Linked DNA regions of Homo sapiens: all the other regions are linked to region 4. The links come from fine-mapping of genetic effects on gene expression. A gene starts in region 4. Each other region holds a variant in brackets. All regions are shown on one strand. Distances are from middle to middle. Region 1 has its middle 13 kb from the start of LINC01656. Region 2 overlaps PARVG (parvin gamma). Region 3 overlaps PARVG (parvin gamma). Region 4 holds the start of PARVG (parvin gamma).

Region 1 (6,025 bases), 270 kb after region 4:
AGAGAAGCAGAAGGTTCTAGGATAGAGGCCAAGCCCAAGACAAACAAGTTTTTAGGTGATGCTGGAGAAGAGAGCCCACCAGCACTGGGGAAGAAAGAACCAGGACTTCTGGTTCTCCTCTCACTCCAGGTGCACACTCCTTTGAAATCAGGGGTGACCCTATGACCTGCTCTGTCTGCAGAAGTGATGAGTCACCTCCAGGGAGAAGCATTAAGGACCACTCTGCCTACCCCTTTCCACTGTAACGGACAGGGTGGCCCCGCACTCCCGACTTGCTGCTCCGGGATGTTGGTGCTCCAGTCAGCTGGGGCAGCTGAGCCATCCCTGGGAGACTGTGGCTCTGGGGAATCACCTGCACCTGTCGTGGACTTTGCTTGGGCAGAAACACATGTTTGACTGAAGCCACTGGGACTTTGACAGTTTGTTCCTGCAGCATCGTTGAAATCAACCTGATCGATGCAAATATATTGTCAAGTTGAAATGCAGGTTTCAAAATGGCATTGATTCATCCATCAGTTATTCATTGGGCCCCCACCTTCCCACCCCATGTCTGCAATTTCCAATTCCAGATTTAGGGGAGGGGGCGTTTAGAGTCCAAATCCCTCCCCCAACACACACGTAGGAAAACGAATGTGGGGATAACAGGGCCGCACTGTGGCGATGGCGGTGAGGCAGGGAATGGCAGTCCTGGTATGCAGTAGGGCCTCGCTCAATCTCAGCTCCTTTCTGAACTTTTCCTGCCCACACACCTGTCCTCGGGCCTCATCCAGGTGTCAGGGACAAAAAGCATTTTAATAGGGCAGGTATTATCATGTGGGCCCAGGACAATTCCTCTATATTAAAATCACAACCCAAACCTCTGTGAAGGAGACTCAGGCTATGTCAGGGCAAGTGGCCATGCCTGGGGACCACAGCATCACTGCACTGCAAGCTCCGGATTCCCACAGCCTGTGAGCTCCCCATGTGACCACCACAGCACAGGCTCGGCTAATTGGGTCCATGTGATGGGAAAGATCCCATGTGACCACCAGAGCACAGTTGGTCTATGTGATGGGAAAGATTTTGCCTTCCGGTTGCGTCCAGTTTGCTTTCTGCACATTTATCAGCTCCGAGCTCGCTCCCTAGAGCCACCTTTAATTGGGTTGAGAAGGTAACATGCGGAGCCGGCTGCATGTTGGCAAAAGCGCTTCTGCTGGCCTTGGATGGGAGGCTGGGGAGTCTAGACTGTCCCTTCATGGGGGCACGTGTGTTGCTGTACCATGATACTCGGGTGTGTGGATGCCCTTCAGGGTCCCCTCGATTCCGGGACCTGAGGGTTTGTGTGTCCAACTCCTTACTGAGGAGCCACAGCTCAGGGAGGGCAGGGGAAGGCAGAGGGTGCTGCCCATCCACGACAGCAATGGGGCTGCCCCTTAGAACCTTGCTGAAGTGGCCTGAGCCCTGTCACCCTTGCTATGGGACATCCAGTGTCCTCCCCATCCCAGGCACACGGACCACAAATAACTTCCCTTTTCTTTTAAGCTAGGGTTGCATTTCTGTTGCTTGCAACCTCAAAAGTCTATGCTGGCCGATTTGCAATGACTCAAAACTTGACTGCCTTCTTGCTACCATGGTACAGGGACAAGGGCCCAAGTAACTCTGGGAGCTGTTGGCAGCTATAAGGAAACCCCACTGGGGAAAAGCCCCTGCTTGGTGAAGGATTGATATGAGAGAATTACAGAGGAACATCTGGAGCACCAATGCCATTGAGAACCTCTAAACCAAACCACACCAGGAGCCTCTCTCCTGCTGGACATCTCGGTCCTGTGAGCTAATTTCTCTTTATTATTCTTTCCCTGTACTATGATAACTTCCATCCAGATTTGATGGAAGGACTGTAAATATTCCTGGAATGAGATCTTGAACTGGGAGATGAAGGCAGTCCCTGGAAGGCTGGAAGAGATTTTGGTTGTCTTCTTTGTGTTTATATGGATGTAGGCAACTTTGAATGTTCATGGGAAGAGGAAGGATCTGTATGAACCTTGGGTAGCCAAGGGCTGTGAGGACTATAATAAATAATCGTCACCTCCTAGCATTATTCTCCCTTCCCACCGTCCCCTATGTCCGTTTCGATGTCCAAGTAAACTGGCTCTACTCTCAGTCCCAGGGCTGGAGCATGTGATCTGATCTGAACCAGTCAGTGTATTCCATCCCCTGGCCTAGTAATTGGTTCCAATTTGGGGGTGGACTGAGATTGGTCCGATAAGAGTAATACCAGCCTCTGAGGAATGACTTGGACCTGTAGTGATATTTGCATGAGACAACGAAACTCTGTCTCTCTCAAAGGATGTTAATGAGGAGGCATGCAGGCCTGGGAGCCACTGGCAGACCTCTTTGGACTCTAAAGGGAGCCAGCTTTAGGATGAATCTGATGTCATAGAAAGGAAAGTAGAGGGAAAGCAAAAAACAAAAGTAGATATTCTGTTACATCATTGAACGGCTGAGTCACACTTCACCTGAGCCTTTCGGTTTAGCAAACGAATGTCATCTTGACATTTACTTTAAAAGCCCATTTGGGTTCTTGTGGTTTCCTGTTCTTTGCAACTGAAAACATCCTGAGCAGGTGGCTACCATTATTATCCAGATTTTGAAGATAAGAAACTGTGGCACAAGAATATTAAGTGATAGGCCCAGGGCTACCGGGCTGGTAAACAGAGGTGGTAAACCCAGAACATGCAATGGTAGCCTCAACATATAACGATTGGCCACTTGCCATTTTCTTCTGCCTTTAGGAGGTTGGTCCTCTGCACTTCTGGTCTCCACTTGACACCCAGGAGGAGGTACCATCACACCCCAGGACCTGCTGTGCTGGCGTTGTGTTTCTGCCGGAGTCACCTCTGTGAGTCGCGGGAGAGCCAGTCACCTTCGTATGTGTGCACA[C/G]GCATGCACGGTCACAGAGGAACGTGCCTCCAGGGGTTTACCGTGCATGAATACCCGGACTATTTGGATGCTTTTCTTCAGGTTCTGTAGTTCTCATGGTCATGAAGCCCTCCACTAATAGCAGTTCATTTTCTTGACTTATCTTTACAAAAATAGGGTCATAGGATTTTCCCACTTTACAGGGTGAGCAAACAGAGGCTCAGATGAGAAACCTGACTTACCACTGGTGGCAGAGTGGGAAGTCAAATCAAGACATCAGTCCAGCATTTTTGACTCATCCACTCGATCATTGGTTTTTAATCTTAAGACGACCATGACCCACACTCAGGGCAGAGAGTGAAATGGAGGGAGAGAATGAAAGCTTAAATTTAGGTTTAGAAATAAGCAGTCCAGGCACAGTGGCTCATGCCTGTAATCCCAGCACTTTGGGAGACCAAGATGGGCAGATCACCTGAAGTCAGGAGTTCGAGACCAGCCTGACCAACATGGTGAAACCCCGTCTCTACTAAAAATACAAAAAAATTAGCCAGGCGTGGTGGCAGGTGCCTGTAATCCCAGCTACTCAGGAGGCTGAGGCAGGAGTATCACTTGAACCAGGGAGGCAGAGGCTGCAGTGAGCCGAGATCGCACCATTGCACTCCAGACTGGGCAACAGAGTGAGACTCTGCCTCAAAAAAATAAAATAATAAAATAAAATAAAATAATCAGCTCTCAGTCCAGGAAAAAACCCTGGCTGGAGAGGGCCTAGATGTTCTGCACCTAGAATGATGGAGCCCTAGACAGGGCTGAAACATCTGTTGCTTCCTGATGCTGTTCAACCTGCTCCTGAAGATTCAGATGAGCCTCTTTCCAGAGGCTCAGAGGGTACATACGAACAGTTTATTCCTGGGACACTGAGTTTCGAGATGCCTTCCTGTTCAAAAAGAAGGCTGGGAGTAAAGCCTGGTAGGGGAGGTGCAGATGTTGGTCGGGACCCTTCAGATAGTTGTAGAGGGGGATGCAAGCTGGAGGGGAGGTGGTGGAGGCCTCAGGGACCCGGGGAGAAGGCCTGGATGGGCAGAGACTCTGGGAAGGGCCTGGAAGCCTGTCCGCAGATGTTCCTAGAAAAGCCCCATCATCTAGTTCTCCTAGACCCCAAGCAACTTTATAGAGCACATTTTAAAAGATATCATCTTGGGCAAAAGCTCCTTTTGTTCACTAGATCTTATTGAAAGCATCCCCAAATTTTAAATTCTTCACTTTGAATGGAAATCATATAGAAATATTATCACTATGTGCACTGAGATTTGGATGACCCTAAATCATCATTTTGAAGAAAAATGCTGAAAAGGCAATTATGTTTGAGCTAAAATAACAAAATGCATTAAACGTAAGCAGAATGAGTAAAATATCCTTACCCTTTCAAAAGAGAGAGACAGAAGAAAGGGCTCTGGCCCAGCACTTAACAAATCTTGGTTCTGTTTTTTTGTCACTCATTCATTCAACTCTTCATTCCTTTTTTTTTTTTTTTTTTTTTTTTTTTGAGACAGAGTCTCGCTCTGTCGCCCAGGGTGGAGTGAAGTGCCACAATCTCGGCTCACTGCAACCCCTGCCTCCTGCGTTCAAGTGATTCTCCTGCCTCAGCCTCCTGAGTAGCTGGGATTACAGGCGCCCGCCACCACGCCTGGCTAGTTTTTGTATTTTTAGTAGAGACGGGGTTTTACCATGTTGGCCAGGCTGGTCTTGAAATCCTGACCTCAGGTGATCCTCCCATCTCAGCCTCTCAAAGTGCTAGGATTACAGGCGTGAGCCACCATGCCTGGCCTCTTAATTTAATAAGCATTTGGTGAAAGCCTGTCTTGAGTTACGTACTGGCTATAATCCACAAAGAAGCTTCAGCTCCTGACCCGAAGGAGTTTACAGTGTAAGGTGCATTCAGTCCCTCAACCAACAATTGCACCATAGGCCGTGCTCTGTAAGGGATCACAGAGTCCCCCGGCTGAACGAGTTCAGGGACAGCCTTTCCCGTGATCTGACATTTAATGCAGGACCTTAGAGATTTTCTAGAAAAAGGCAGAAGGAAGCCTGGAGGAGAGAAAAAGTGATATCTTGGAACATGCATCTATATCTGGTGTGACTGCAACCACGTGTAGTATGTGGTGTGGCGTGTGTGTGTGCATGGGTGTGTGGCGTGTGAGTGACGAGTGTGCTGTGTGTATGTCTGGTGTCTGCGTGGGGTGTGTGCATGCACGTGTGTGCATGTGTTGGCACACAGGGAGGTTAAGCATGGTGGGAGGAGGATAAGCACGGTCCGGGTGACATCGGAGACATCCCTCCTGCAGCTCAGGGAGCCCTGGGGAGCTAGTGTGCCCACTGGGAGCATCTCCCTGTGCCACCTCCTCTGGGCCCATCTGGACTGGCTCCAAGGCAGGATGGGAGGGCTGAGCTCGAGCTACCCTATCTCCCAGCTGTGGGATTTCTCTAGGCCCTGCTCCCCTCAACCTCAGGTGGCTGTCTGAGAATTCAGTTTCTAAAGACTCCATGAGCCACAGGCAAAAGCCAGGGTCCTTACTCAGTCACAGCCTGAAATTTGGCTGTCGGCCTCCAGGCTCTGGTCTCTTAGCAACCAGCCATGTGGGCCCAGGGCAGCTGCAGGGCTCTGCTCCAGGCGGGCTACACCCAGGGGCTTTGGAGTGGGTCCCCAGGCCACCTCTGGCAGCTGAGGTGTGAGGACGGCCAGGCACCGTCCCTCTAGCCTTGACCTCACTCTCCTGGTTCCACCCCCAGCCCTGCTCCTGCACCTGAGCTGGCGTAGGAGTGCTGCCACAGCTCTGCCAAGCCCTGGGCGATCGGCCCGCGGGCCCTGGTGGAAAGAGCCTCTCTGAGCAAAGCTGCTGCATTTTCTCTTCTCCATGTTCAGTGTGCCCCACATGCTCACGTCTTCCTACCAAGCCCCCAAAGGCTCCAGCTTCTGCATGAGCTCCAGGGACCGTCAGCCAGGTGCTCTATTCCCAAGGGATGAGGGCTGGTGGACCCCATGCCTGCATCTGCCCATCTTCATCCTACATATCCTTCCAGGCCCAGTTCAGACACCACCTCCTCTATGAAGTCTTCCCCAGTGACCTTG
Region 2 (6,025 bases), 23 kb after region 4:
TGCTTCAAGTGGAGCACCCAACTGCCAAGCCCCATCTGCCTCCCCGACCACGTCCCCTCCTCCCTTCCTGCCGACTCCCAGCCACAGCCACAGCCACAGCCACATGACCTCTGGCCCCCTTCCAGCTCTCCAGGGCCTGGTCCTCCCCCATTCCCTCACATCCACGCAGGCTGTGCTCTCAGCCCAGCCTACCCTGGCTTTGCTTCCCACCTGCTTCCCTGGGCGGGCGGCCAGCTCTGCCCACCTTCTCAGCTCCTCTGCAGTCCCTCGGCGCTCTGTGGGGCCCTGTACCACAGTCCACACTCCCTTGGGGTTAGCTCCCTGCACTTTGCCTCTCCTGGCCCTCTCCCCACTCACCCTCCCTCCTTGCCCCTGTGAGAGCGGGGCAGGGCTGCATCTCCATTTTACAGAGGGGAGCCCAGGGCCCGAGAGGCTTACCCAGTACCACCCAGCTGCTCAATGGCAGCCTCACACCAGCACAGCCTGCCGCCCGCAGCCTGCCATGTCCCTCGCCCCCACGGGGATGCATCTTGAGTGGGTGTGGCCTCCACCTTCCCTGGAGGCCAGGTGCTCTGGACTTGGTTCCCAAGAGCTGGGATGTTGGGTCAGAGCAACGAGGCCGGGGCAGTCAGTGTCTACGGTCCTGGTGGTTGTGGCAGGCACGGTGCCTGCTGCTTCCTAGGTTCTTCCATTCGGAGGAGCTGCATCAGCCAGCCATTGCCACAAACGTGCTGCTTAACAAACCACCCGAAAACCTAGGGGCTGAAAACCATGCTCATTTCTTCCCACAGACCGGCAGGTCGGCTGAGTTTAGCTGCTAGAGGCTCAGCTAGGCTTTGTCACTCCTCCGAGGACTGGATAGGGATCAGGCTGTCGTGGCTGGGTGGCTCGGCTCTGTGCCACAGCCTGCCATGTTCCTTCTGGGACCAGCAGCTGGCCCGGGCACGCTTTCCTCCTGGCAATGGCAGACACATGAGAGACCAGGCAGAAGGCATGAGGCCCTGGCTCAGAATGGGCAGGCTGCCACTTCCATCGAAGCAGGCCCTGTGGCCTTGACAGTGACATGGGACAGCCCTGCAAAGTGTGTGGGTGCAGAATTGGGCCGATGGTGGGATCTCCCACGGGCAGTGTGGACGAATGTGCTAGCAAATCCTCATGTTGGGTCTTGGAGTTAGGAACTCTTCCCATCCCCACTTCCACAGAGGAAACAGTTGAGAGAGGCACAGAAGTCTGGCCCAGAGCACACAGTGAGTTAGGGTCCTCCCTGTTTCCCTCCTGTGGAGCCAATGTGAGTCTCTGGGAGATGGAGGGGTGGCAGGGCTCAGTGGGGTTGAAGCCAAGGCTGAGACTGGGGTCAGAGCCTGCCTCGGGAAGGCAAGGCACTGAAATGTGAGCGGTGAGGAGAGAAGGCGGAGGAAGGGGGCAGGCAGGACCACCTGCGGGCTGAGGGCCTGGGGCTCGGAACCCAGCTCAGAGCCACTCTGGGGTGCCCCTGGGCTGCAGGGCCTCTGCTCAATCTGTTGCACCATCCAAGCCCCAGTTACAAGACGGGAACAAACGTGCAGACTTCCATGTTGCTGTGTGCAGCCGCTTTGCTGAATCCACTGATTTTAGAACTTACTTCTGAATATGAGTCAGATTAGATGTGGGGGAAAAGCAGCAGCCTCTTAGCTCAGACTCCAAGAATGAATTTTTACAGCATATTGTGGGCAATCTCTGCTGCAGGAATGTGTAATCAAAATGCTGAAGAGGTCGTCAGCTGAGGAGGGCGGGAACACCAGCCCTTGCTGAAGGTGGGCCTCTGCGGAATTGTTATCTTGGCAGAGTAGCCTCTTGAAATTGGATTTCTCATTATCAGACCCTCTTTGCTGATGGTGTTTATGTGAGATAGTTATTCATTGTGGGCACGGAAGTTAAGGATGGAGGGAGAGAGGATCATTCGCTCCCAGAAATAAAATCCCCGGAGCCAGGAATCCTTGGCGTCCTTCCACGTTAAATTACTTTCCCCAGGAGGATTTGCACGTATCCTCCCGGGTTGTAACCTTCTCTCAGCTCCGTGGAAGGTGGTAGTTTTATCTTCATCTCAAGCCACACGCGGAAGAAAAATCTCTGGACAGAGCATCATGAGATAGCTCTGGAGCCAGGGTCAGCTCTTACTGGGGGATGATCTTTTGTTCAGATTGAGTGTCATTGAGGAAGAGTGTGACAAACAGAAGCAGATGTCATAATTTTCAGTGTCGATAGCAATTCCCAAAGCATAAGCTCTATGAGGGCAGGAGGTCTGGTCTGTTTTGAGCACTGGTTGTATGGCTAGCACATAGTAGATGACAAGTATTTTTTTAAATAAGTGAATGAACGAAGTGTTTCCAAAACATTGGTCCCAGGAGGTGTTCTGTGACAAATGGGTTCTATGAATAAATAACTTGGGGAAACATGTCTAGTCTTGAAGGTTCATGCGGCCCACCAACACATTCAAGGCTCTAATAAGTCCTGCAGTGAAGGACTTCCATAGTATTTTATTTAATCCAACAATTTCTAAAAACGTTTGGCCACAGATATCCCCTTTCCTGTCCATCTTAGATCACAGTTTGGGAGATGCTGGCTCGCTGAATGTATCAAAGGCGGAGCTTTGAGGCAGGAGAGCACAGTGCGGAGTCTGGAACCTCAGGTTCCTCAGGGTCTTGTTCTCACTCCGACATTTACTCTCCATGTAACTGCAAATAATATTCGTGATGAGAATGCGAACAATAGCAACAATTGCAACCCTAGTTTCCCAGAATATTCCAGTCTAGGAGGAAGAACTGGGGACACAGTGATGGGAACTTCCGGTGATGCTCTGGTCTGTCCACTCGGAGCTTCCCATCCATCTTGGTCTGGACAGTCTCAGAGTTTCACCCCGCATTGGCCCCTGCAGCATGCTGCAACATTGGTGCC[G/C]TGTGATAGCCTTTGTTTCGCTCTTGTCACCCAGGATGGAGTGCAGTGGTGCAATCTTGGCTCACTGCAACCTCCGCCTCCTGGGTTCAAGCAATTCTCCTGCCTCAGCCTCCCAAGTAGCTGGGATTACAGGCACGTGCCACCACACCCAGCTAATTTTTGTATTTTTAGTAGAGACAGGGTTTCACCATGTTGGCCAGGCTGGTCTCGAACTCCTGACCTCAGGTGATCTGCCCACTTTGGCCTCTCAAAGTGCTGGGATTACAGGAATGAGCCACCGTGCCTAGCCTGTTTCTTCTTGTTGGCTGACTACAGAGGAGCGGCCCTGCTGCTGCTGCTGGGCACCCTGCCCATACACTCCTTTCCATCTGGGACCCGCCCTCCATCTTCATGTCCCCACGTGGAGAAGGACTCTGCTCACCCACTTCCAGCTCCTATGCCTTCATCATCCTCACCTTCAAATCTTGCTTTGTGGCTTCAATTCTGTGTCCGTCATCACATTGGACGCACATGGCAGCCTTGGAGAGGAAGGCAGACAGGTGTATCATCCCCGTGACACAGATGAGGCACCTGAGGCCCAGCCAGGATGTGTGACTTGTCCGAGGTCAGACACTTAGTGGCAGGGATGGGGGTGGCAGTACACAGACATCCAAGCTAGATCCCAAGAGTCCTCTTGCTCGGGCCATCCAGCAGGTGGCTGGAGGTGGCCTGGGCCAGGCTGGCGTTTCTGGATGAGTCTTGCCTGGCCTTGCTCATCCACCGCTCGGCCAACCTGGCCTCTTGGCCCCTGGCGGGTTGCCATGGGAACTGCCCTGTCCTGGTGGGGCTGGTGTGGCCAGGCAGATAGGGAGGGAACGGGACCAGCACAGCTGACCCCCGGGCTGGGATGTCCACCCCGTCTAGTGGATCTACGGGTGGCTAAGACATTGAAGGGAGGACCTGTTTGAGGTCACAGTGAACCAGGAGTTCATCCCTCTTCACCCACACCAGGCTGCTGCCCTAAGGCAAAGGGCTGGGACCTACTCTGCTTGTAGACGAGGCCCAAGGGAGAAGCTAGAATGGAAAGGGAGGGGACCTACTGTGGGAGGGCCGGCAGGCTCCTGGGCTCTCACCATATCCTGTAGCAAGGCACAGGGGAACTGTGGTGAGCCCACTTTGCAGGGGAGCAAGGGGAGGCCCTGGGCAGGGACTAAGCTGAGCTCTGAATCACTGGGGGACTTGACTGATGCCCGGGCGCTCTCCACCCTAAAGGGAGCCATCTCTGAGACTGCACCCCAGGCAAGGGGTGGCGGAAAGGACAGCCACCTGGGTGGGGACCGCTCCAGTCTCTAGCCTGCTTTGCATGAGCATTGGAGCGGACAGACCTGGTTTGAGCGCTTTCTGTCTCGTGAGCTCCAGTGAGCCCCTTGGCTCCTCTGAGCCTTGATTTCCTCACTGTGCTTTGCCCTGGGAAACAGCTGTTCTCAAAGGTGCTCTGCCACCCCAGGCCCTTGCTCCTTTCCCTGGGTAGTTCTCCCTGCCTGGCGGGACTCACCACCAGGCTTCACCTCCACCAGGAAGCCTTCCCTGATCCCTATTGGGTATCCTCCTTGGCGATTGCCTTTTTCACGGGCAGTGGCCCCTGGACGCAAGCGTGTGCCCAGTGTGGTATAGCACCTGCTCAGAGTGGGGCCTGTGAGTGGCTGAGGAATGAGACATGGATTGCTTGTGTGACAGAGTGAGCTGTAGGGAGATGCTGGATGACCACGGATTGTGGTCGTGGTCAGGGATGCCCACCTTGGATGGGAGTTTAGGCTCATGATGGACATCACAGACAACAGGAAGGGCTTGGCACTTGGGACCCAAGGCCTGGCCTGGGGCTGCTGCTTGTGCCCACATCTGATAGGGCCTTGTCATCATAGCTGCACAACGTCACCCTGGCGCTGGAGCTGCTGAAGGACGAGGGCCTGCTCAGCTGCCCTGTCAGCCCTGAAGGTGAGTGCAAGGCAGATGCCCACACGGTGGCCAGCCCTGGGTGGCAGCCTTGTGCGAGAGCCACAGAACAGGGTGCAGGGCATTGGGGGATGAGCACGCATTGGCAGAGTCCTCTTGCCTGGCAGGGGTGGAGAATGGGCGCTTGCCAAGGTTTCTTGGGAGGGGGCACTGCAGCCCCAGGGGAAGAGGTTCTGGGGAGGGGGAGACCAAGGTCTCTGGGGACAGGTTGTCCAGAGAAGCCAGACCTTGAGGAGTTGCTGTGTTGGGGGCACCACAGGAGCATTCAGAGGAGGACTGGCCAGGAGGAGGAGGCAGTCACGCAGCAGGCGCGGGACCCAGGCCTGGAGTGACCAGCTGTCCTGGCTTCCAGGGATTCTCCTGGGATTAGCACTGAAATCCTGAATGCCAGGAAACCTTGACCACATCGGGACAGTCGGTCACTGCCACCCAGGCCTGACTGGCTGCCCTGCCCTCCTTTGGCCCGCAGATATCGTGAACAAGGATGCCAAGAGCACACTGAGGGTGCTCTATGGTCTGTTCTGCAAGCACACGCAGAAGGCACACAGGGACAGGACGCCCCATGGAGCCCCGAATTGACCCTCACTGCCTCCAAAGCCCAGAGCCTGCCTGTCAGCCCAGCTGGAGGGCCCGAGGCTGCAGGGTGTCCTCCCACAGTCCCGCTGTTTCCTGTGCATTCGTGACCCGCTTCCCTCCCACCCTGTCTCCTGTCTCCATCGTTGGATTATCTTTGAACCCCCTTGTGTGGATCATTTTGAGCCGCCTGGCCTTGCTCAGTTTATTTTAATAAAAGTATTTCTGGGAGGGATTCTGGGAACTTGACAGGGTCCTGAGGAGGGCCCTTAAACCTGCAGCCTCCCTCCCATGGGGTGAGTGTGTGTCACATCAGTCTCTCATCTCTGGGCCCAGGCTAGTGACCGCCCAGAGAGGTGGCATCACTCAGGGCTGGGGACTCTCAGGGACAGGGCCCACAGCCCCAGACCCCACCTTTTCCAGCCCAGCTCCCCACACCCACCTGCTTCTCACTCGGGAGGATGGGCCCCAGAGTCACCCTCCAGGGCAGGAGCCCGAATGGCTCCATAGCCATGCCCCCACCCAC
Region 3 (6,025 bases), 29 kb after region 4:
CCGGGGAGGAGGCTGGCGGGGAGGGGTGAGATTGGTGGGGAGGGCTGGGGCTGGCCGGGAGGGGTGGGACTGATGGGGAGGGGTGAGGCTGGCGGGGAGGGGTGAGGCTGGCGGGGAGGGGTGGGACTGGTGGGGAGGAGTGAGGCTAGTGGGCGGGTGAGGCTGGCGGGGAGGGGAGGGTTTGTGGGGACGGGTGAGGCTGGCGGGGAGGGGTGAGGCTGGTGGGGAGGGCTGGGGCCTGGTGGGGAGGAGTGGGACTTGTGGGGAGGAGTGGGACTTGTGGGGAGGGGTGAGGCTGGGGAGAAGGGCAACCACAGCCCCAGGCTGCTGCTCCTCCCTGGACCCTGAAGAGGCCTCTGGGTCTGGGGTTTTCACAGTTTGACAGCTGAGGCCTTGGGGAGGGGCTTTAGATGGGGGTTAGGGGCTAGGTCATCATTGACACCCACTGGGGGCGCCTAGGCAGATGTCCTTCGGGGGAGCAAGATGGGAGCCAGGGACGCAGTGCCAGGTCAGCCCTGGGAGCTGGTGTCTGGGTGTGAGAAGGCCTTGAGGGGTCTTCCCTTCACCTAGCCTCCCATCTGCCTGCCCTTCTCAGCTCCCAATTCACAGGGCAAACCCAAGCCCATAAGCGTGTTCCACGTGAGCACTCAGATGCACCCCTCTTCATGGATACCCACCCTACTTCCCGGCTGCCTCTGGGAAACGTGCATCCTCCCACACCAGGTACCTGGAGCCCAGCTCCTTCCACCTGCTCAGGTGCCCCCTCCATTGCGATGCCCCCTCCAGCACCTCAAATCCTCTCCTGGAGCTTCTGGGGACACAGGCTCAGCCTCTCTCAGCTGGCTTCATCCCAAAAGCCTGAAATCCAGCCCCACTTCCTGGGGCCTTTGAGTCCTCACTTGCTTGGGCCCCATCCGCTGCAGGCTGGCTCTGCCTGGCTGTTCCACGTCCTCACTCTTGTTCTATTTGACAGCAATTAAAAAAAAAGTGACTTATTTAATTACTGTAGCTTTATTGAAAAATAACTTCCCAGTTTGAAGTGTACAATTTGATGAGTTTTGACAAATGCATGCAGTCATATAACCACCACCATCGTTATCCAGACATGGGACATTCCCATCACCATGCAAGTTTCTGCATCTGTCTGCAGCCAGTTCCCTTCTCCCAGCCCCTGGCCCTGGGGACCACTGATCTGTTTTCTGTCACCATCATTTAGACTTGTCTAGAATTTCTTATAAACTGTATCCTATGGTATGTTGCTTTTTGTGTCTGATTTCTTTCACTTAGCATAATGCTATTGAGAGTATCTCCATTGTTTCTTGTATCAACAACTCATGTCCTTAGTACATTCAAAAATAAGTCCTCCAATTTTGTTCTTCATTTCAAAAATTATTTTGGTTTTTCTAGGTCTTTTTAATTCTTTTGGTTTCTACATAAAATTTAGAATCAGTTTGTCATTTTCTGCAAAAAAGCCTGCTGAAATTTTGACTGGAATTGTGTTCTTTAGATCAAACTGGGGAAAACTGACATCTTAAAAATATTGGGGAGCTAAGATCACTGATTTGAGAATATTTTTCTTTTATATAAATATTTAATGCTGGATTTTTTTTTCTAAGCACAGCTTTAGCTGCATCCCACAGATACTAATATGTTGTGTTTTCACCTTCATGAAGTTCAAAATATCTTCTAGTTTCAAATGTGACTTCCTCTTTCACTCATGGGTTATTTAGAAGTGTATAATTTCCAAATATTTTGGGATTTTTTTTCCAGCTATCTTTTGGCATTGGGTTTTGTTGTGGTCAGAGAACATGCTTTGTATGATTTAAATCACTTAAAATGCATTATGACTTGTTTTATGTACTGGATTATGGTCTATCTTGGTAAATATTCTGTATGCACTTGAAAAAGAATGTGTGCTCTGCTGTTGTTGGACAAAATGTTTCATAAATGTCAATTAGGTCAAGTGGGTTGATTATGTTGTTCAGATCTTCTATATCCTTGCTAATTTTCTCTCTACTACTTCTGTCAATTACCAAGACAGAAGTGTTAAAATCTTCAACTGTAACTGTACATTTCACTATTTCCCCTTTCAGTTCTATCAATTTTTGTTTCATACCTCATATAAGATTATAATGTCCTTTTGTCTCATTTATCCCTTGTAATATCTCTTACTCTGAAATCTGCTTTGTCTGATATTAATATAGCCACTCAAACTTTCTGTTAGTATTAGCATGGTATATGTTTTTCTATATTTTTAAACTGCGTCTGTTTAAAGTAGGTTTCTTATAGACACAAATAATTGTGTCTTTTTGTACAATCTGGAAACCTCTGCCTTTTAATTAGAGGGTTTAGTCCACTTACATTTTTTATTGTGGCAAAATATACATAGCACAAAATTAACCGTTTTAGCCATTTTAAGTGTACAATTCAGTGGCATTAAGTACATTCATACTGTTGTGCAACCATCACCTCCATCCATCTCCAGAACTTTTTCATCGACCCAAACTGAGACTCTGCACCCAGGAAATACTAACTCTCCATTCTCCCCTCCCTCAGGCCATGGTAACCACTATTTCTCCCCTCCCTCAGACCACGGTAACCACTATTCTACTTGCTGTCTCTGTGAATTTGACTATTCTAGGTACCTCTAGTCCATTTACATTTAATGGAATTATTAATGCCATCTTGCTGTTTGCCTTGTTCATATGTTTTTCTTATTCCTTTTGGATTGAAGACTTTTTAGCGATGTGAATTTATTTCCATTATTGGCTTACCAACTGTATTTCGTTATTTTCATTTCCTAGGGGTTGCTCTAGACTTTATATACACATCTGCATTCATATCCTGTCATTGCTGTAACAAATTACCACAAACTTCTTGGCTTAAAACAGCAGAAATTTATTCTCCCACAATTCTGGAGGCTAGATGTCTGAAATTAAGGTGTTGGAAGGGTCACGTTCCCTCTGGAGGTTCTAGAGGGAAAGCTGTATCTTGACTCTTCAAGCTCCTGGTGGCTACCAGCATCTCTGGGCTTGTGGATGCATCACTTTAATATCTACCTTCACAGTCACTTTGCTTCTTTCTCCTTTCTCTGTCTATCCCTCCTCTGTGTCTCTCTTATAAGGGCGCTTGTCATGAGATTTAGGACCCACCTAGATAATCCACGATTATGTAATCTCAAGATCCTTAATTTAATTATATCTGCAAAAACTTTTTTCCATGATTATCTAATCTCAAGATCCTTAATTTAATTGTATCTGCAAAAACCTTTTTCCCAAAGAAGTTAACATTCACAGGTTCTGGGGATTAGCATGTGGACAAATCCTTTTGGTCACCATTTAATCTACTATAACATCTTAACTTATTACAGTCTACCTTTAAGTAATATTACTTCCATTTTACTCTTCTGTGTCCTATTGTTGTCATGTGTCTCATTTCTATAGAATAAATTTCACAATATATTATTTTTGCTTAAAAATGTCAATTGTCTTCTTTTGAGACAGGGTCTCACTCTGTCACCCAGACTGCAGTGCTCACTGCAGCCTCGACCTCCCGGGCTCAATTGATCCTCCCACCTCAGCCTTCTCAGTTGCTGGGGCTACAGGCATGCACCACCACACTTGGCTAACTTTTTTAGAATTTTTTTTTTTTTTTTTTTTGTAGAGATGAGGTCTCC[T/C]TATGTTGTCCAGGCTGGTTTCCAGCTCCTGGCCTCAAGTGATCCACTTGCCTTGGCCTCCCAGTATGCTAGGATTACAGGCATGAGTCACAGTGTCCAGCCACATCGATTGCCTTTTAAAGAGTTTTTTTTTTTTAATTGAGAAGAAAGTCTTTTATATTTACCCACATACTTATTACTCCTGGTGCTCATCGTTTCTTCTTCCATTTGGTATCATTTTCTTCCTGCCTAAAAGACTTTCTTTATCATTTTGTGTAGTGTTGGTTATATGTTAGTGAGCTTGTGTACCTACAGAAATAGATTCAGTATTGGTCCTTCCCACTCCAAACAGCTTTCCTGGCGATGCCTTCTGCTTCTAAAATTCCTGTCCCTCCTCCCTAAGGGTCACTCTCCAATCTCCACTGCAGCTCTAGCCCTGAGCTCCAGACCCACATTTCTTTCTTTTTTCTTTTCTTTTTTTTTTTGTGTGTGGTAAAATACACATAACACAAAATGTACCATCTTACTATTTTTAAGTGTATTCAGCAGTATTAAGTACATTCCTATTATTGTGCAACTGTCACCACCCTCCAACCACAAAACTCTTTGCATCTTGCAAAACTGAAACTCTGTATCCATTAAACAATAACTACCCCCATCTTCCTCCCCTAGCCCCTAGCCCCTAACAACCACTATTCTACTTTCTGACCTAATCTATATTTTGAACTTCCCAGGGCATAGCTGTGCCTGGGGTGCCCACCCCAAGCTCACCACATCCAAGTCAGAGCTTGCCCCGTTCCCTAATCTTCACTCTGGAACTTTCCAGCTGGCCTCCCTTTCGCAAGAAAGGGACTTCTTTCTTGTGACTTCACTTCTGCACCAGCAGCCAGAGTGCTTTTGTCCTCGGAACCCAGTCTCACTACCATCCTGCTCTAACCTTCCCAGGCCCCAACCTCCGGGCAGCGTCTGGACTCTGGGTGCTCTGGTGCTGCTGGCTTTGTGGTCCTCCTGCTCACTGTGTTCTGTCTCCGTCCCTGCCTCAACCTTTCCACACTGCTTCCAGTTATATCCCTGACATCTCTGCGATCTTTCCAAGTCTTTCTGATGCTGTTCCCTCTGCCCAAGATGCCCTCATCCCACCTGCCCCAGGAACTTGTCATTCAGAAAAGGAGTGGGGACATTCTTTGAGAAGAGAGTGGGGAAGAGGGTTCACCGTGGGACAAGGTGGATGCCTGGGGGCCCTGGGTGCCTGGGGGTGGGTGGAAGAAGTGGTTCCCACAAAGAAGTCTGAGACGAAGCAGGATCAGGGAGCCCTTTCCTCCCCTTATTTCACTATCCATGGCCTTCGCTCTTTTTCTCTCTTCCTCCATCCCAAGAAATCTGACTCCAGTAGAAGTTGCAGCCGAAGTTGGAAGCAGGATAATTATAGCAAGCTGAACAGGAAGGCGTCCAGGGCCAGAGAAGGAGCTGGCAGCTTGGGCTGGGTGTGCAAACAGCTTCGAAGCGAAGGGAAATGCCTCGAAGGCTGGGGTGCCTCGGAGTTGAGCTGCTTCCCAAAATAATCCAGAGGGCAGCTGTCTTGGAGTCTGAAACTGGGTCTGGCCGCCTGAGCTGCAGGAAGCCCCAGGACTCACACCAGCTCCACTCTGGGAACAGATGGAACTAAGATTTTTTTTTTTCTTTTTACCAAAGTCAGCTGGTAAGCGAACAGCTTGTCTAGAGAAAAGTGTGTTCCTGCCCCCATATCTTCTGGCAATGGATCAAAGCTGCCAGTGCCATCCCAACCCCCATCCCTGCCCCACCAGCCTTCTTTCCTTGTAAGACTTGGGCAGTGGTGAGCAGAGGGGCATCATGGACCTAGAGACACATGGGATCCCCACCCCCTGGGGGTGTAGCCCAGGGAGTGTCCTGGGCCCCTAGGTCAATGGGGGACTGGGCTGAGGGGCCTGGCTGGTAAGAAAGTAGATGATGAAGATGTTCCAGAAATGATTCTTCCAAGAAGAGTCAGCCAATGGACCTGGGCTGGCCAACAATTGCATGAATTCATTTATTTATCCACAAGCATTTCATATGGGTTGGTTTATTATTACCTAGAAAGGTGATGCATTAATACCTAGGTGGGTTTTTACAAAGGTACAAAATCATAGTGCACACACCATTCATAAGAGAACTTCTCCACCTACTGTGTGCAGGCCCAGGGCACAGAGCTGGGTATAAAGAGAGTGCTCAGACCGAGGCTCTATCCCAGAGGAGGTGTAGCCCAGGGTGGAAGGGGCTGGGTAGTGCAGTGGTTAGAGTGTGATGCTTGAGTCAGACCCTGGGGTGTGAATCCTGGGCAAATCCTCACCTCACTCTGTGACCCCAGGCAAA
Region 4 (6,025 bases):
TTTCCATCAGGAATAACTAGAAGCCTCCACAAAACACAGGAAACAGTTACTTCAGACATTGGACATGCCTTTGCTCCCCCTTCACCTTCCACCATGACTGTGAGGCCTTCCCAGCCATGGTGGAACTGTGAGTCCATTAAACTGTCTTTCTTTATAAATTACCCAGTCTTGGGTATGTCTGTTTTAGCAGCATGGAAATGGACTAATACACATAGGAACTCTTTGTACTTTCCTGCAGCTTTTCTGTGAGTTTGAAACTATATAAAAGTAAAATGTTAAGAGGCGAGTCAGATCTGTGATCCCCAAGAAAAGGGTGGCAAGTGAGGTGAGCCCTACCCTGGTCTTGGCTTTCTGCCTGGACATAATTCCTGGACTGTGCTGTAGTGAGGGGGACCCAGACAGAGCCAGGTCTCACTGATTTAAGGAGACAAAGATCAGAGCTTGCAGAGATTACGCTTATTAAAAACAGACATCAAAAGAATATTTCTGCCAGAAAAATTCCAACACTTCTTAAAGAAATGCAACAAAATTCAGCACGCGACGACATAAAAATTTAATGTCTAGCATTCAATAAAACATTATTATAAAGAAGCAGGAAACTGTGACCCACAATCGGGAGAAAAATCAGTCCACAGAAGCAGACCAGGAAATGACAGAAGTGATAGATTCTACAGGACAACTGACCTGGATGTTTAAAAAATGTTAGTGTCGTGAAAGATTGTTCTAGATTACAGGGCTCTAAAGAGACATGAAAACCAAATGCAATCACATGTGCTGTGTGATGCCTGAATGGATCTTGGATTAAAAAAAATACAGCTGTAATAGACATTTTTTGAAGCCTTGGTGAAGTTTGAATGTGGATGAGATATTAGAAAACCTTCTATCAATGCTAATTTTCTTAGGTATCATAATGGTACTGTGTTATGCAGGAGAATGTTTTTAGGAGAAACATTCTGAAGTATTTAGAGATATCCCTAAAGTGATGTGATCCCTGCAATTTATTTATTTTTTATTAATTTTTAAAAATTTTAGTTGTGGTTAAAAATACACGTAACATAAAATGTACTGTCTTAACTATTTTTAAGTATACAGTTCAGTAGTGTTTGGCATATTTGCACAGGTATATTTCACACCGTGTCTCTGAAAAAAAAAAAGGCTGGAATAATTCCCTTCTATCCATGCCTTTCTCTTAATTGGGGTTTGGGGGTGCTTGGACTTATCTCCATGTTACTCTTCCAATTCTTAGAGTCCCTCTCTTCCCCTAAACAATGCTCTACACACAAGAGGCTTTGTGAGTTGTGGATTTAGTCTGTTGTAACTCCACACCATACAGGATTAGATTTCGCATCTGATTCTTACATCAGCCCTGCAGCCCCAAGAGATGAGAGATAGCTTTGAGGGCTATCAGAGAACTCCCTGTATTCTGCACATACCTTGAGCTGAGAATGTAAAGCCCTGGGACTGTCCTTTTCTTGCTTTAAACTCTTTGGTGTGATGATAACAAGCTCACCCCACAGTCCTTAGATAACCTGTGCTCGTATTGCGTATGGAAGCCACAACTCTGCCAAAGCCACAATTTAATAGGTACTTCGTTCTGAGTGATGACAGGTAATTATTTTGCCATCACAGGCTACGATCTATTAGAACTCCATTCTCTAACAGTTACTAGGTCCCCACTGCCTTTAAATCAACCAGAACAAGTAACCAATCCCAGTTCCCATCCTGGAGGTCGTGTTGCCTGCAATTGTTTCTGGTAACAAATCCGAAGTTAATTGGGATTCAGTTGCCGATGATTAGAGTCTCTTCAGTTGTTTGGAGGAGAAAGGAATCTAACATAGGAAGCTGTGTGATTCTCAAGCTGTTGGAAGGCTGGAGGCAGCGCCTCCAGCAAGGACTCTTGGAAGAATACTGCAGAGCTGGCTCCTGAAGGAAGCTGCCGAGTCAGGCTGGCCCTAGAAGCATGCTTTCTGGGTTGAATGCTTTAGGTTCACCTCTGCAGATCCACTCCCCACCATTTTCTCTCCTCACATCTATGGGCCGCAGCAGGGGACTTCTTTTCTCTGGCTTCTGGCTGGATGTGGGCAGGGGAGGCCCTGGCAGGAGGGAGGAGAGTGAGGCTTGGTCATTGATTCCTCCAGCTGTGCCCTTCTGCTGGTTCACCATGAGCTGGCTGTGTCCCTCTACCAAAGGCCACAGCTCCTATCCCGAGGCCCCTCTTAGAGCTTCAGTGATTCTGTTCCTGGGCTCTGCCACCCACTCCCTCCTTCACCCTCTAGGTTTTGAAGAAGTAACAGCTCCCCATGTTGCTAGCCTGGGGTGTAGCACTGTCTCTTCTGGGTTCCTTTAACCCTGCCCCAGCTGTCCCTTTATTAAACAGTCTTCAGTTAGCACATGGGAATATACCGTCTCTTTGCTGCTGGGACTGTGACTGCTGCTACATCTATGTGGCTGTGATCCAGAGTCAGAAGCCACCACCAGAACCACTGTGTCCAGAGCTGGGCTGAGCCTGCTACACACGCCCCAGCAAAATAGGTCCTGCACGGTGGCTTCTCTCCCCACCTGTTACAAGCCCCAGTCTAGCACGGGCACTTCAGAATGGCAGGGACTGACTCATGTGCCTCAGTGTCTTCCTCTGTAATATGGGGGTGATGATTGTACCTACCTCACAAGGAAGTTTCCAGTAAAATGAAAGCCCTTAAAATTATGTTTGTTTCATCACCAATGACTCCATAAATATTAGCAACAATACCAGTACTAAGTTTTGTCATTTTTTATTAACTTCTTGTAAACGACCCTACTTTCCTGCTCTCACACACTCCTTACACCTGCATCCCACCTGATTTAGCCACTTTCTGCCTAACCTGTCAGAAAGGGTAGATAGCTTCCCAGTCACCTGTTGCTAGGGAAACTCACCATTTCAGCCCGGATGGTGAAGATTCCAGCTTGAGAGACCAGCTCGGGTCTGAAGTGTTTCTCTATCTACTGTGCTGAGATCTCTCCTTCTCGAACCCTGCTATGCCTTTGCATACGCTGTTTTCTCCACCTGCCACGTTCTCACCCCTTCTTCTTCCACTGCAAACTCCTATGCAGCCGTCAAGGCCCCATTCTCCTCTGGAAAGCCTTCCCGATCCCCTTGGCAACAACCACCACCAATATTTATTCACTGAGCCCACTTTGTGCCAAGCATTGTTCTAGACACGGGTATGTAACCGCGATTGAGAGAGACAGACCACGCACAGCCTGGATTTTATTTTAAGAGCTATTGGGTGCCGTTGGTGGGTTTGAGTGAGTGGGGTCAGGAAGTGACTCACTCCTCCGAGGGCTTGTGGGAGCCTCAGCTCAGGGGCGGGCAGGGGGCGTGGGGAAGTCTGCAGCCGAGAGTCCAGGTAGGAGTCTCCTGCGTGGTCCCGGGAGAGGAAGGGGCCTGGCCCGGGGCGGGGTGTGGAGGTGGGAGGACGGCGGTGCGGGATGGAGGGTGGAGGCCAGGCTGACAGGGTGCTGGTGGTGGGTTGCGGGGGTCGACCCCAGGCTCTGGCCTATGTAGCTGCCATTTTGGAGGTGAACAGCCTGCGGGGAAACTGGCATGGTTTGGGGAAGGCGGGGAGAGGGGGAGAAATGAAAGCATTGAGTTTAAGTGGCCTGCAGAACCCCGGGGGCCCAGGCGGCACGGCGGGCGCTGGGGCTCCGGGCAGAGCTTTCTGGAGGTTTGTGGCAGCTTCACTTTCACGGCATCCACCCCCCTCGGGCCCTGCCGCAGAGAGGAGGAAGCTCCTGCCGGCTGAGCGGGCCTGGAGGAAGTGAGCAGCGGGGCTCCTGCCTCCCGGCCTGGTCCCCGAAGACCCCAGAAGAACCCGGAACTTGCTTCCATTCGGAATCCAGGGACCACCCTTTGCACTCAGTAGGCCTTTGTTTTCCTGCGTGGAAAGCGGTTGGGTGAGTTCTGGCATCGGGGCCACCATACTTGAGTGTTGGGGGTCACGGAGGGAGGGGCCCAGACACCACCTGGGAAGGATCCCAGAGTGCAGTCCCAGCCCAGGCCACCCGGGGAAGGGAGTCGGTAAAGTGGGACCTTGAGTCCCCACGGCCCCTCCGGCTGCCCCTGCTCAGAGGCTGCTCGGCGTCCTCCCTCCCTGTTCTACTGAGGAGTTGCCGCCTCTGAACTTCAGCCAACCCCTCCGTCTCCAGGTGAAGAAACTGAGGCCCTGGGGCCAGGAAGGGGCTTGCCCAGGCTGCTGATCCCTTTGGGCAGCATCGAGTCCAGGCCCTCCTTGTAACCATGCATCAGGACCAGAGAGGGCAGGGGGTTTGCCCAACGTCACACAGCCTGAGTGAGGAGGAGCTGGCCTGGGACCCAGGCTTCCTGACGCCCAGGCCAGGCTCTTTCGTTTTCTCTGGCCATGGCCCTCAGCTTGGATATTAAGGGGCTGGGAGTCAGTTGTGTCCCCACCACCTCCATGCTACAGGGCAGGATGGAGTCTGGCATCCCCCGCCCCAGGCTGGCTGCTGGTGTGACATGGGTGGCTCCAGTCGAGTGAATGCCTCCGTCTCCCACAGCTCAGGGGGCTCCCTGCTCTGGCCACCAACTTCTGCCATGTGACTCCCCTACCTCAATGTCTGATTGAGTTTGAAAACACTGAGAAGACCCAGGGGCTGAAAAGGGAGGAAGAGGGAGGCCAGAAGGCGCCAGCCGAGCCAGCGAAGCCTTCACAGGAGAGGAAGTGGGCCAGGGGAACAGGAAGGAGGGCTGGGCTGGCCTCTGGGTCTGCCCCTGTCCCGGGCATGTGGTGAGCCCAGCCTTCTGCCTGTAATGAGGAGGAGGAAGATGAACAGTGCCTCTGTCAACCCTGGCCCTTCCGGTTTATGGGATGGGAGATGTCACCATTCCACGTATCCACCTCAGCCAGCCCCACACAGGCCGACCGGGGAGGTTTCCCTTGAGCTCAACCTGACAAGCTCTGAGGAGTGAGCTGTACCTACTTTGTCCTGTCTGGGATAGGGTGGGGGGTCCCTGGGTAGGGGGCTGGGGGCTGCAGGAGCACGGTGGGCGGCCGCTCTGCACCTGCCTGAGGAAGGACCACTTCCTCCGCCAAGCCTTTGCTTGGCTGTGCCCGCCCTCAGCTTCTGTGCCTTTTTCTAACCCGTCACCCCGCAAGGGTTGGCTCAAGGGCTCTTTCTCACAGGGCCCGTACCCCCTGCCTAGGCTGGCATGCTGACGTGTCCCCAGAACCTGGCTTCTACCCTCCTTCTGTGCCTCCAGGTCTAGAGAAAATGAGGGGCTCAGTGAGTTTGGGGCTTCTCAGACCGTGACGCCCTCTCCTGCCTCCTCTGTGCAGGCTTGGGAGGCGATGGAGCCGGAGTTCTTGTACGACCTGCTGCAGCTCCCCAAGGGGGTGGAGCCCCCAGCGGAGGAGGAGCTCTCAAAAGGTGTGTGCCCACGCAGGTCTGAGGGTGGAGGGTGAAGGTCTGTGTGGCAAGAGTGAGCCTGGCCATGCCTGGGACTTGCAGCACCTTCCCAGCTGTCAGCTGAGCGCCCAATTCTGCTCACCCCTGCCTCCACCTTCTGCTTTATGCTTGACCTAACTCCTCCTCCTGGGACCTTCTACAGAGCTAGAACCTCTTCTCTCCAGATGAGAGACGGTGTGGATTACGATGGTGAATACTGATTGCTCTCATCCTGTGAGCCTTCTGAGTGCCCCTACTGCACCAGCACCTCTTACCAATAGCAACTCATTTATTCTCAAGGGCGGGCATCAGTGCCTGCTTTATACAGATGAGGAAACTGAGGCACAAGGGGTGACGTGCCACAGTAACAGGAAACTCTTAGCAAGTGGTGGACCTGGGTTCTGAGCCCAAGGAGGGTGGTCCCAGAACTGAGGTTCCACACGGACCACGCAGCGATGCCCACCATGGAGTGATACTTTGCAGGGTGTGGGGCTCCTGACGTGCTCCCCTCACACGTGTGGGTCCCTTTCAAAAGTGGGGTGAGCATAGGATGGAGCAATTCAACGACTATAGGTCGCCCTTT

The links. PIP is the estimated chance that this variant, and not a neighbour inherited with it, causes the effect. A credible set is the group of variants that fine-mapping cannot tell apart.
Region 1: its variant is the best candidate, but not a certain one, in a credible set for the expression of PARVG in T cells (TOPMed, PIP 0.56).
Region 2: its variant is the best candidate, but not a certain one, in a credible set for the expression of PARVG in whole blood (INTERVAL, PIP 0.65).
Region 3: its variant is the best candidate, but not a certain one, in a credible set for the expression of PARVG in whole blood (TOPMed, PIP 0.86).

Annotation. Positions count from the first base shown.
Region 1 is chr22:44,452,967-44,458,991 of GRCh38, forward strand. No RefSeq gene overlaps it. Among named protein-coding and RNA genes, the nearest start is that of LINC01656, 13 kb to the left of the region's middle. RefSeq lists an enhancer at 2,621-2,770. The variant C/G (reference allele first, on the strand shown) is at 2,920.
Region 2 is chr22:44,200,922-44,206,946 of GRCh38, forward strand. It overlaps PARVG (parvin gamma), which reads left to right. Exons shown (of 14, transcript NM_022141.7): 13 at 4,836-4,908; 14 at 5,396-6,025. The coding sequence ends at 5,505. Among named protein-coding and RNA genes, the nearest start is that of PARVG, 23 kb to the left of the region's middle. RefSeq lists enhancers at 1-335, 1,147-1,956, 3,217-3,717, 3,718-4,218. The variant G/C (reference allele first, on the strand shown) is at 2,935.
Region 3 is chr22:44,207,216-44,213,240 of GRCh38, forward strand. It overlaps PARVG (parvin gamma), which reads left to right. Exons shown (of 14, transcript NM_022141.7): 14 at 1-1,254. Among named protein-coding and RNA genes, the nearest start is that of PARVG, 29 kb to the left of the region's middle. The variant T/C (reference allele first, on the strand shown) is at 3,677.
Region 4 is chr22:44,177,985-44,184,009 of GRCh38, forward strand. It overlaps PARVG (parvin gamma), which reads left to right and starts at 2,941. Exons shown (of 14, transcript NM_022141.7): 1 at 2,941-3,201; 2 at 3,758-3,933; 3 at 5,334-5,424. The coding sequence starts at 5,346. RefSeq lists silencers at 2,202-2,251, 3,422-3,551 and enhancers at 2,928-3,658, 3,659-4,388, 4,389-5,118, 4,432-4,521.